Linked DNA regions of Homo sapiens: region 2 is linked to region 1. The links come from fine-mapping of genetic effects on gene expression. A gene starts in region 1. The other region holds a variant in brackets. All regions are shown on one strand. Distances are from middle to middle.

Region 1 (5,388 bases):
AGCTTCAGTGGCATATTCCACTGAACATTTAAATGCGAACAAAAACCCTCTCAAACTCTTCAAAAAATTGGAGACAGAAAAATACCTCCCTCATTCTATGACTCACCTAGAATAGTGAAATTTATGGAGAGAGAAGGTAGAAGTTACCAGGGATTGGAGGAGAAGGTAATAGAGACATTTTTAGTGAGTATAGTTTCTGTTTGGGATAATGAAAAAGTTCTGGAAATGGATAGTGATGATGGTTACATAACGTTGTGAATGTACTTAAAGCTACTTAATAGTACACTTAAAAATAGTTAAAATAATAGTGAATTATATGTTACGTATATTTTACAATTCTTAAAATAAATGTAATCCTTGTGGTTGTTACTCCACTACCACAGAATACACACACACACACACACACACACACACACTCCTTCAGAAAAGGAATACTTCAATTTTCTAAATTTTCTGTCTGATCACTCAAAATACTTTGATACTATGCCAAAATATCAGGAAATTTCATGTTTATTGGAATATAAAAATGTAATGAAAACTTTAGATAGTAATTGAAATGCTCTGGTATTTAACGATGTGTGTGACTTTTAAAATGTGTTTTTGATAGACTCTGATAATTTTATAAAACTACACAAACTCATACGAATTTTTCCATGCTGTCCAGTAATCGATTGATTGCTTCTCAGTCCAAATTCACTGTCTGCCCTCTCTGCGAAACTGAATCTGAACCCTTTCAATATTTTTCCTTTGCCAGCTGCTGTGATGTTGAAACCTTGTCAGCAGAGAGCACTGGAGAGACATTGTGGGAGGAAAGAGTTTTGCTTCCTGGTTCAGGGTTTTCACTGGCCAGGCTCCCGTGGTTCTTCTCCACTGTGCCAGCTCCTCTAGGTCCCACTCCTGCAGCACACATGGCTTCCCCAGGGTTCAGCTCCTGCAGTGGGGGTGTCCAGTGCTTCCCCAGCTTCCTCCCAGGATGGTTTTGTAGTAGGATGCCTCCAGGGAGACACATCCTTGTGAACACCTTCCCCACACCCTAGAGGGTGGATTTCCTGCAAGTTTCAGAGAGTAGAGCAAGTTCTTCCAGAATTGAACCGCAGTAGCTTCTCTGTTGTCCCATGAGTCATGCCACGTCCTCTCCCATAAGGTCTGGGTCTCAGTCCTGGTGGGCATGGGAAGACAGGTTCTTTTCGAAGAGGCTCTTACTCTATCTCAGCCCTAGGGATAGTGGCTGTTCCTTATATTTGATATTCCTATATTCTTCAGAGTTTTACTTCTTACTTGCCAACACCTCGTTACTCCAATCTCTTGTTAGAGTTAATCATTCTCTGTATTAAACTTTTCTTGTTTAAATTAATGTGGTTTCTCTCTCCTCTCTCCCAAAAATCCTGTGTGAGCATTTGAAATGCTTTTATTTGTGATACATATCTTCTAAACTTTCACAGAAATTTGAACATGTTTCTGACATGAATAATTGATTTTGAAATGTAAACTAACATGAGGTTTGCATGTTCTCCAATACTACTACTAATTTTTGAGTTATGTTAAAGATTTACAATAAAACATTCAATGTCCTTCCCAGATAACTTTGTGATTTAGTTCTAAGTTGCTTTATTATTTCCACATGCAAATACGTAATTTATTTCTTTGTCCATCAGCTGTTAATATTTTTGACTTTTTCCTTTTTATATAGCAGGAGATTAAAAGAACGTTTCATAAACACTCAAGTGCACCTTTAAATGCTGGGTAGGTCGAGTGGCATAGTGAAATATAGATATTGAGGAACATTATTATGTGTTTTCGTAAAACTAGACAGTGGACTCATTAGAATAATGTGGCAAAGAAATTTTAAAAATAATCCTTATAAAAGAAACATCATAAAAACAGAGAAAAAGGCTTAAATAGTATTACAGCTTTTATGTTACTTCTGCTTTCTATCTCTTCTTTCTCTGGCTCGCTTCTTAGATAATCTCATTCTCTCACATGGATTTTAAATTTCTGCAACATGGTACCATCTTCCAAATTTTTATCTCCACCTCAGATCTCAACCCTGAATTCCTAAATTGTCAGCCCAACTGCCTACTTCATATCTCTACTTCCTTGTTTTATATACATTTCAAACAGAAAAAGTCAAACCCACAAACCTAATTCACCCACTGTCTTCTTCATCTCAATTAAAAGGCAACTCCATCTTTTCAGTTGCTCAGCCAAAGCTTATTCTATTTCTCTCTCTCTTGCACACTACATCCAATCCATACATCATTTGGCTCTGACTTCAAACTATATCCAGAACATGACCTCTTCTTATCAACATTACTGTGACCAACCTCCTCTGAGTCACTGGCGTGTCTTCCCTGAAGACTTGCAATCACAACCTAATGAATATCCCTCCTTCTATGTCATAATTACCCAGTCACCATATGATCCTAAATGGATCACATCACTGTGCTGATCAAAATGCTGCAGCAGTGCCCCAACCCATTCAGTCTAAGCTGAATTGTATCACGGTCTCCTGTCCTACACCATCTGTCCCCAGGTCCCTTTCTAACCACCTTCTAACCTTTGCACACTCACTTCTCTTCAGACCTAGTGACTTCCCCACTCTTCCTTGAACTCACCTAGTGTAGTCCTGCCATAGAGACTTTGGCCTGGCATTTCCTCTGCCAAGAATGCTCTTCGATCAAACAGCTACATGACCCTCTCCTCATATCCTTCAATCTTTACCCAGAAAGCATCATTTCAGTCATGTCTTCCCTGATCATTCTACTTACAATCCAGCACTTCCTGGTTCCCCTTATTCTGCCCTAATCATTTCCATCACAAGTATCATCTCTTCTAACATACTCTACACTTTGCTCACTAAATTGGAGGCTCCAGGAAGACCATTCTCAGCCTCTGCCCATTGCCCAACAATCACATGGCCAGAACTAGAGATGATTTACAAAGGCAACATTCAAGGCCTCCCACAGGTATCCAGTGGACTGAATCTCAGAATTCTACCAGCATTGTTTTCTCACAAGAGATGCCTAGGTTATGGTTGGATCTCACATGGAAAAATATACAGGATGAGTATTCCCTGGGAAAGAGATTGCCATGGTTTGGACATTTGTCCCTTCCAAACCTTATGTTGAGATCTGATTCTAAATGTTGGAGGTGGGGTCTAACAGAAGGTGTTTGGGTGATAGTGGGAGACCCCTCAGGAATAGATTAATACCCTCCCCAGGAGTGAGTGAGCTCTTGCTCTATTCCTTCCCACAAGAGTTGGTTGTTAAAAAGAGCCTGGAAACTCCCTTCTCTTGCTTCCTGTCTTACCATGTGATTTTTGGATGCACTGACCCCCTTCACCTTCTGCCAGAAGTGGAAGCAGTCTGAGTCCCTCACCACGTGTCCAGTCTTCCAGCCATCAGAATTATGAGCCAAATAAACATTTTTTAAAATAAATTTCCCAGCCTCAGCTATTCCTTTATAGTGACACTAAATAGTCTAAAGACGGGGTGGTGGTCAAAATTCAAGCATCTTTCACCATAATGAATTGAATGTGCTGTTCATTAGTGAGACTCTGAAGACAATCTGACTTTTGACCTCTTGGGTAAAAGGTACACAAATTTAACCTTAATCATTGCACTTAATGGCCAGACTTTTTAAAACCATGAGTTTAAAAGTGTGATTCTTAGGGAGCTAGCCTGATTCCCCCTTAGAATTTTTCATAAGTCACTGTGACAACTGCAAAATATCATCAGCACAAAGACACAGCATAAAAATGAGTTACAAATACACGTCCTTAAAGGAAATAAATTCACTACTTTCTTGTCCAAGATTATGGCTAAAATTACAGCTCATTGGCACAGATTTTATATCTATCTATCTATCTATCTATCTATCTATCTATCTATCTATCTATCTATGTAAAACACTGATGAAACTGAAAAACTTGGAACAGTATCTGGTCCAAGGTAGCTGCTTAATAAACGTCTGATGAATTGAATGGAAACTGGAAGACTATCATTTATTATATGAGTCTTTAAAGTAACAATGAAGTTTCTATTTAAATGTAATTTTTAAAGTTTTGTAAATTGTGTTGTCAGTACTGACAACAATAAAATAACCAAGAAATAATATATGAGTGCTTATTGATGAAGAAATAAATTAAATGCAGTCCAATTAGGTACCAGACAAGAAAATAATGGGCTTAAATTCTTACGAATATTATAATAATGTTCAACTAACATACTTCCACCCATCGCCGTGTACTGCCATGAGTACCTCACACTGAATTGCAAATAATTTCAACATTATTGCACCAACGTCAAAATAAGAAAATGCAGAGAATCATGGCCTTTTTTCCAACCTCATGGCAGCTTAAAAAATATATCTCACCCTTAATGCATTCTAACCATGGGCCAGGTTTGGCTGTGAGAGCTGCTGCACAGACAGAACTAATTAGTCAACACTTTATGTATGGGATGTTGGATTTTGAACATAGCAGCTTTTGGTAAAATCAGAGATTTGTCCAAGGCAGACACTGAGAAATATAACAAATTAAGCTTTGATTAAGTCAGTTTTAAATGGATGACTCACACTTTTTAACGGTTGTGAACAGAAGCCAAACAGCAAATCTGAAAAAAAAATCTAAACTCTTGTTCAGAGAAGAGATTAATCTAAATCTGTGGGGAGGGAGGAGGAAAGGGGACTCAGAGCTGCAGCACCTGTGGAGAGCCTGGGACAGTCTCCTGAAGCACAGGCCAGTGTCCTATGCCTCCCTCCGACCTTGTTAGCCCACGTGGCACAGGAACACCAAGGGCCTGGTCAATGGCTCAAGGTCTTTCCTGCTCATTCCCCCTCACTTCCTGCTAGATGCAGCTATCAACAAACCAGACTCCAGCTCTGCCCCAGCCTCCACCAGACTTCAAACCAGTCTCAAAACCGAGCAGTTTAGCCCCAAAATGCATTTTAAAACTTTTTGCCATGTTTTTTTCCTCCCTAGTCTCAAGATGTAAACTTGAAGGAAACTGACAAACATATTCACAGGTTCTGGTGACTAGGATATGGATATCTTCCGGGGCCATCATTCTGCCTATCACAGGCCTTCAACTATAAATTATCATTATAAATATTATAGATTTACAGATAAGGCTTGTCCCAGGGAGACTTGGACCAAGTCTAAGGTGCAGAGTGTTCCTGAGGGCAGATAACACTCTGTCCTCACTGAAAGGATAGTGTGTTCATTGGACAGGTACACAATGAATGGTTGTCCATTAAAGGTGGTCACGTGTTGTCAGGCCACTGTGCTCCAGCATCCAAGCAGCTGGCATAGGAGAAAGGAGAGGCCTCCGGCTGTTCCCGGAAAGACAGCATGGCCTGGCTGTTTAGAGCTGAGACTTGGGTTTGAGG
Region 2 (5,388 bases), 71 kb after region 1:
AATGGGTACATGGTACAGGTGGTCTTAGAGATAGGCCCCAATCGACACACTGGGAGGGTAGTTAATTTCCTCATTCAAGTAAAAACAGAAAATTGCTGTAAGAGAAGGCCAAATTAATCCTATGGACCACACATTGTATGATTCAATTTATATAAAATGTCCACAATAGACAAGTCTATAGAGACACAAAGTAGATTTTGGTTTCTTAAAGCTGGAGATGGTGGTAGGAGGAATTAGGCATGACTATTAATAAATATGGGGTTTCATTTTGGGGTGATGAAAATATTCCAAAATTGAGTGTGATGATGGTTGCACAACTAAAAACATTGAACTGTACACTTGGGTGAAGTGCACAGTATGTGAATTTGATCTCAATAAAACTTATTTTTAAAAAAGCATATGGTAGTTCACAGAGAGATTGCTTCCAGCTATAACCTAAGGAAAGGCTTCAAGGAAAAGATGGGTTCAAAGCTGAAGAATCTGACTCTATGGAAACAGAGTAAGAACATTTTTTTAGAGATGGGATCTCACTATGTTGCCCAGGCTGGACTCAAGTAACTGGGATTACAGGTGCACAGCAGTGTGCCAGGCTAAGAGTAAGAGCATTTTTGGCAGGGAGAAACAGGAGTAAACCAGGGAGGCAGGAAATTATAGGATGCATACAGGGGACAGTAAGTCATTCAGTTCACCTGGTGTGTGGGGCCCATGGTGGGGATGGTGTTATATTAAAGAAGGCCTTGAGCCAGGCATTCAGGAGGCTTGAAGTAGGAGGATCACTTGAGCTCAGGAGGTCAAGGCTGCAGTGAGCTATGATCATGCCTCTTCACTCCAGCCTGGGCAAAAGAGTGAGACCCTGTCTTATAAAAAATAAGAATTAATGAATTTAGAAGGTCTTGAATTCCAAGTGGAAGCACCCAGAATTTGAGCCATAAACAACCAAAGGATAGCCTGATCTGAGCTGAGCTTAATTTATATGCTGAAAGTATGAGAGACTAGTAGGGAAGAGACCAGAAATAAGGAGACTGCTAGAAGATTGTGCAACATCCCAGTTCATCCTCCACAAATGTGGAGGAAGCAGATACTAGCAGTGGTTACTAACTGTAAATTCTGGGATTGTAGAGACTGTGACCCATGCAGACAGCAAAGGCAGGGAGATGCAGCATGCAGCGCAGCATGGCACCGATACTGGCAGACACTTTAGTAGACTTAGGGACTTTAACTGCAGAGAAAATGTGAGGTTGCACTAAGAACTGTGAATCAGCCCTATGGGGCTGAAAATTGACAGCACTGGGATAAGTGGAACTGGAAAGAGAGCAGAAGTAGAAAAATAAAGTTCAGCCGGGCGCAGTGGCTTATGCCTGTAATCCCAGCACTTTGGGAGGTCAAGGCGGGCAGATCACCTGGGAGCAGGAGTTGGAGACTAGCCTGGCCAACATGGTGAGACCCCGTCTCTACTAAAAATACCAAAAAAAAATTAGCTGGGCATGGTGGCGCACGCCTGTAGTCCCAGCTACTCAGGAGGCTGAGACAGGAGAATCGCTTGAACCCGGGAGGCGGAGGTTGCAGTGAGCCAAGATTGCACCATTGCACTCCAGCCTGGGCAACAGGAGTGAAACACCATCTCAAAAAAAAAAAAAAAAAGAAAAAAGAAAGAAAAAGAAAGTTCAATTTATTGGGAAAAAAAGAGCCCTTTGGAAACAAGGAGGAAGAAGAAGTGTCGGCAAAGAAGCATTAGGAGGTTCAGGGTCAAAGAAGACAAGGAAAGCTTTGGCAAGAAGGGCAGATGGGGTGCAGAATTATGCTTCAATTCCAGAAAGGAAAGCACTGGGGTAGATACAAGGTTGGGGCTGGCAGAAGAGTAGCAGTTCAGAGATCATTAACACTTGATCCATTTAATTTCCCAGGTAACCAAAGACACCATGGAATATAATCTGCCTCCACTAAAGTGTACCTTTTGTACAATAAGGCAAAGAAAAAATAAGTACACACCTAAGCTCTAGACTTTTGTTCTATCCTCTCTGCATTTTCGGTGTGGATGAATACAACTTGGGAAGAAAGGAAAGAAGAACCAGCAGTTTTAAGCACTTACTATTTGCTCTGCAAAGTGTATTCATCAACATTGTTGCTTTCAATCTTAAAGCATGGATTGGAGACAGGCAGTATTACCCACACTTCATAGATGCAGAAATTAAATCTCAGGCTAAGGAGGAAGGAAAAGGGAGTTCACCAAATAAGCAGGAGCCTA[C/T]CTGAAGCCTGATGCATCTGGTCCTAGAGCCAACCTTCCATTTCCCCCCAGCCCCCACCTGTTTAAGCTTCGAGGCCAGTGGGAGGAGGGAGGGGCCAGGCAGCTGAGGGCCAGGAAAGATGTGAAAAACTCTAGCTGGTGACCGAGAGGAGGAGTAGAGTGTGCCCTTAGTTCATATGAACTAGAGGGAGTTGGTATTTGCACAGCAGTCAGGGTCACATGAGTGATCATGGTACAGTGAGAAGTTCTCCCTCCCAGGGCCAGGTCACAGGGTTTGTTTCTGTTCAATCCGGATTCTTCCAGTAAAAGCTTCAACTTCCCACACTGAAGCTGAGAGCCTCCCAAAGTGCTGGCTACCTGCTGAGCGCCCCCGTAACTCTGACACAGTAGTAATTTGAGCCTCTGCAATTGCCGTCTGCTTCCTGTGAAAGTCCTTTCCGTGCCCACTGACCCTTGAGTGGGCCTTTGAGCTGCTGACTTTCAGCTGGAACTTGAAGGTAAGAATATGGCTTAAAAGAAATTCTGTACCTAACTCGTTAATTTATTTTTTAACCTTTAGCCACATAGGTGTGGCTTTACAGATGCATTTATTCAAACCAGAAAAGATCCTAAGAATCTGATAAAATAATATAAAAGAGTTTTGTTAACAGCCTCCAGCCTAAAAATTCAGACCTAGAAATTCAGGACCCCCCTCAAATCACCTCCAAAAGCTCTCTCTCCTGTAATACTATCTCTGTCTCCCACCCTGATCTTTTCCCAAATACCCTCCCTGTCCCATCCTCCTCCAGGGCCAGCTCAACTTCTCTGGCCAAGACTATTTCTTCTTCCATGACAGCCCTCCTCTTATGCCAGCCATTGACTAAGACACATGCTGGGCCTGCAAGGGGACTGAACCAGATCCTGTGCTCCAAGGGTCCAGACTTATAAGCAAGTAATTGTAGGACGTGGAGTAAGACCTATAAAATTTGCACACAAAATACTATAGGATCCCATGGAAAGGAGTGATTACTTCTGTTTACAGAGTCAGGGATGCCTCCACAAAGGAGGCCATAGTGATCTGGCCTGATATGATGAAAATGTCCCTGCTGGCTGCTCAAGGGGAAATGTATGTGTCTACATGCCTGACTCTCCAAGGGCAGGAACCATGTGCTGATGTGGCCCAGCAATGAGGGGCCTGGGGAGGGTGAGAAGGACTTGGGACTTCTCCTGTGGGAACTGGCAGATCCCTCTGCTCCCACTGCACTACCCAGCTGCCTCAATCTCTTGCTGCATCTCCTTCTCCCAGCTTTAGCCAGGTTCTATCACTCCCCGTGCAGGCCTCCAACAAGAGCAATACAGTGGGATCCATAGTTCACTGGACAGCCAAGCCCTTAACCGCCCTGGTCCTCAGCAGCAGCAGGTGCCCTTCCACACATGTTCACAGCTGTGCCCAGGCCCTCGGTCATCAGCTACCTGCCCAGAGCACAACGCCTACCACAGAGTTGGTCAATGTGTTGCGTGGATTATTCTCAGGGCATTAGTTCAAGGCCAGAGCCCTAAGCTCACATGTACACCTGCCTACAGGTGTACATTGGGAAGTCCCATAAATACATCAGACTCAACCCCAGAATTGGACTCACCATCCCCTCACCCCCACCCTATGGAGGACCTTCTCACTGTGTCCTTACATGGTCTTTCCTCCATGTGCACACATCCCTGGTGTTGCCTTGTGTGTCCTAATCTCCTCTCATTACAAGGATACCAGATTGGAATAGGTCTCATCCTAGCAGCCTCATTTTAACTTAATCACCTATTTAAAGACATTATCTCCAAATACAGCCACATGCTAATATACTATGAATTAGGACTTCAACATATGAACTTAGAGAGACACAATTCAAACCACGATAATGTCCGTCTTAGTCCATTTTATGTTGCTATAACAAAATACCTGAGGCTGGGTAATTTATAAATATAAGAGGTTTATTTTGAATCATGATTCTGGTGGCTGAAAAGTCCAAGAGCATGGTGCTGGCATCTGCTCAGCTTCTCGTGAGGGCCATGCTGCATCAAGACATGGTGAAGAAATAGAAAGGCAAGCAGGCATGTATAAAGGGACCAAACTCACCCACTTCTGGGAGATGGCATTAATCTACTCATGTGGAATCCACCCTTATGGCCCAAACACCTCTCACAAGACCCCGTGTCCTAGCACTGCCACACTGGCAGTTAAACTTCAACAGAGAGTTTTGGTGGGGACTAACCACATCCAAACCACAGCAGTATCCAAAAAGTGTTTTGTAGTTTTATGTTTATATATATGTATACTTTTTGTTCATAACTATGTATAAACAGTTTTCTATCACTATCACTGCCATAACAAATTATCAAAAATTTAGCAGCTTAAGACAATACAAGTTTATTATCTCACACCTCTGTAAGTCAGAAGTCCAAACAGGTGTCTCTGGGTAAAATCAAGGTGTTGGCAGGGCTGCGTTCCCTTCTGGAGGGTCTGAAGAAGAATCCCTTCCAAGCTCATTCTGGTTGTTGGCAGAATTCAGATTCATGTGGCTGTAGGATGGAGGTCCCATTTGCTTGTTGGCTGAGGTTCATTCTCAGCTTCTGGAGGTCATGCCTTGTCTTGTGTTCCCCTTTGTCTCTAAGCCATCAATGGCAAGTTGAGTCATTCTCATGCTTCCAAACTCTCCAGCCACTTCTTCTGCCACACGACTCTCTGACTGCTCTTCTACACCCTTGTCCACTTTTAAGTGCCCTTGTGGTCACATTAGACCCACCGGGATAATACAGGACATGCTCATTGCCTTAAGGTTCTTAACCTAAATTCCATCTGCAAAGCCCTTTGCCACACAATGTAATGTATTAGGAATTAGGACGTGGACATCTTTAGGGCCATTATTCTGCCTACAACAATATACATTTGAAAAAGACAGATAGAAATACATCAAAATAATAACAACTCTTGTGTGATAGATGTTTTCCTTGTACATTTGGACTGTTTCCAAAGTTTCTGCAATGTATAACTTTAAATTCACAATAAAAAAAAACAAGAGGCAATTTTTAAAGAAGGAACATAGGATTCGTATACAGATGTTGGCTGCGATCCTGGGCAAGTTATTGATCGTGTGACTCTCAGCTTCCTCACA

The links.
Region 2: its variant is fine-mapped to the expression of LINC01594 in stomach (GTEx, PIP above 0.99). The same link has a PIP of 0.9 or more in kidney cortex, pituitary and thyroid.

What each region holds. Positions count from the first base shown.
Region 1 is chr2:108,215,080-108,220,467 of GRCh38, forward strand. LINC01594 (long intergenic non-protein coding RNA 1594) reads right to left here and starts at 2,762. Exons shown (of 5, transcript NR_131251.1): 1 at 2,616-2,762.
Region 2 is chr2:108,286,329-108,291,716 of GRCh38, forward strand. SULT1C2 (sulfotransferase family 1C member 2) reads left to right here and starts at 2,567. Exons shown (of 8, transcript NM_001056.4): 1 at 2,567-2,742. The variant C/T (reference allele first, on the strand shown) is at 2,246.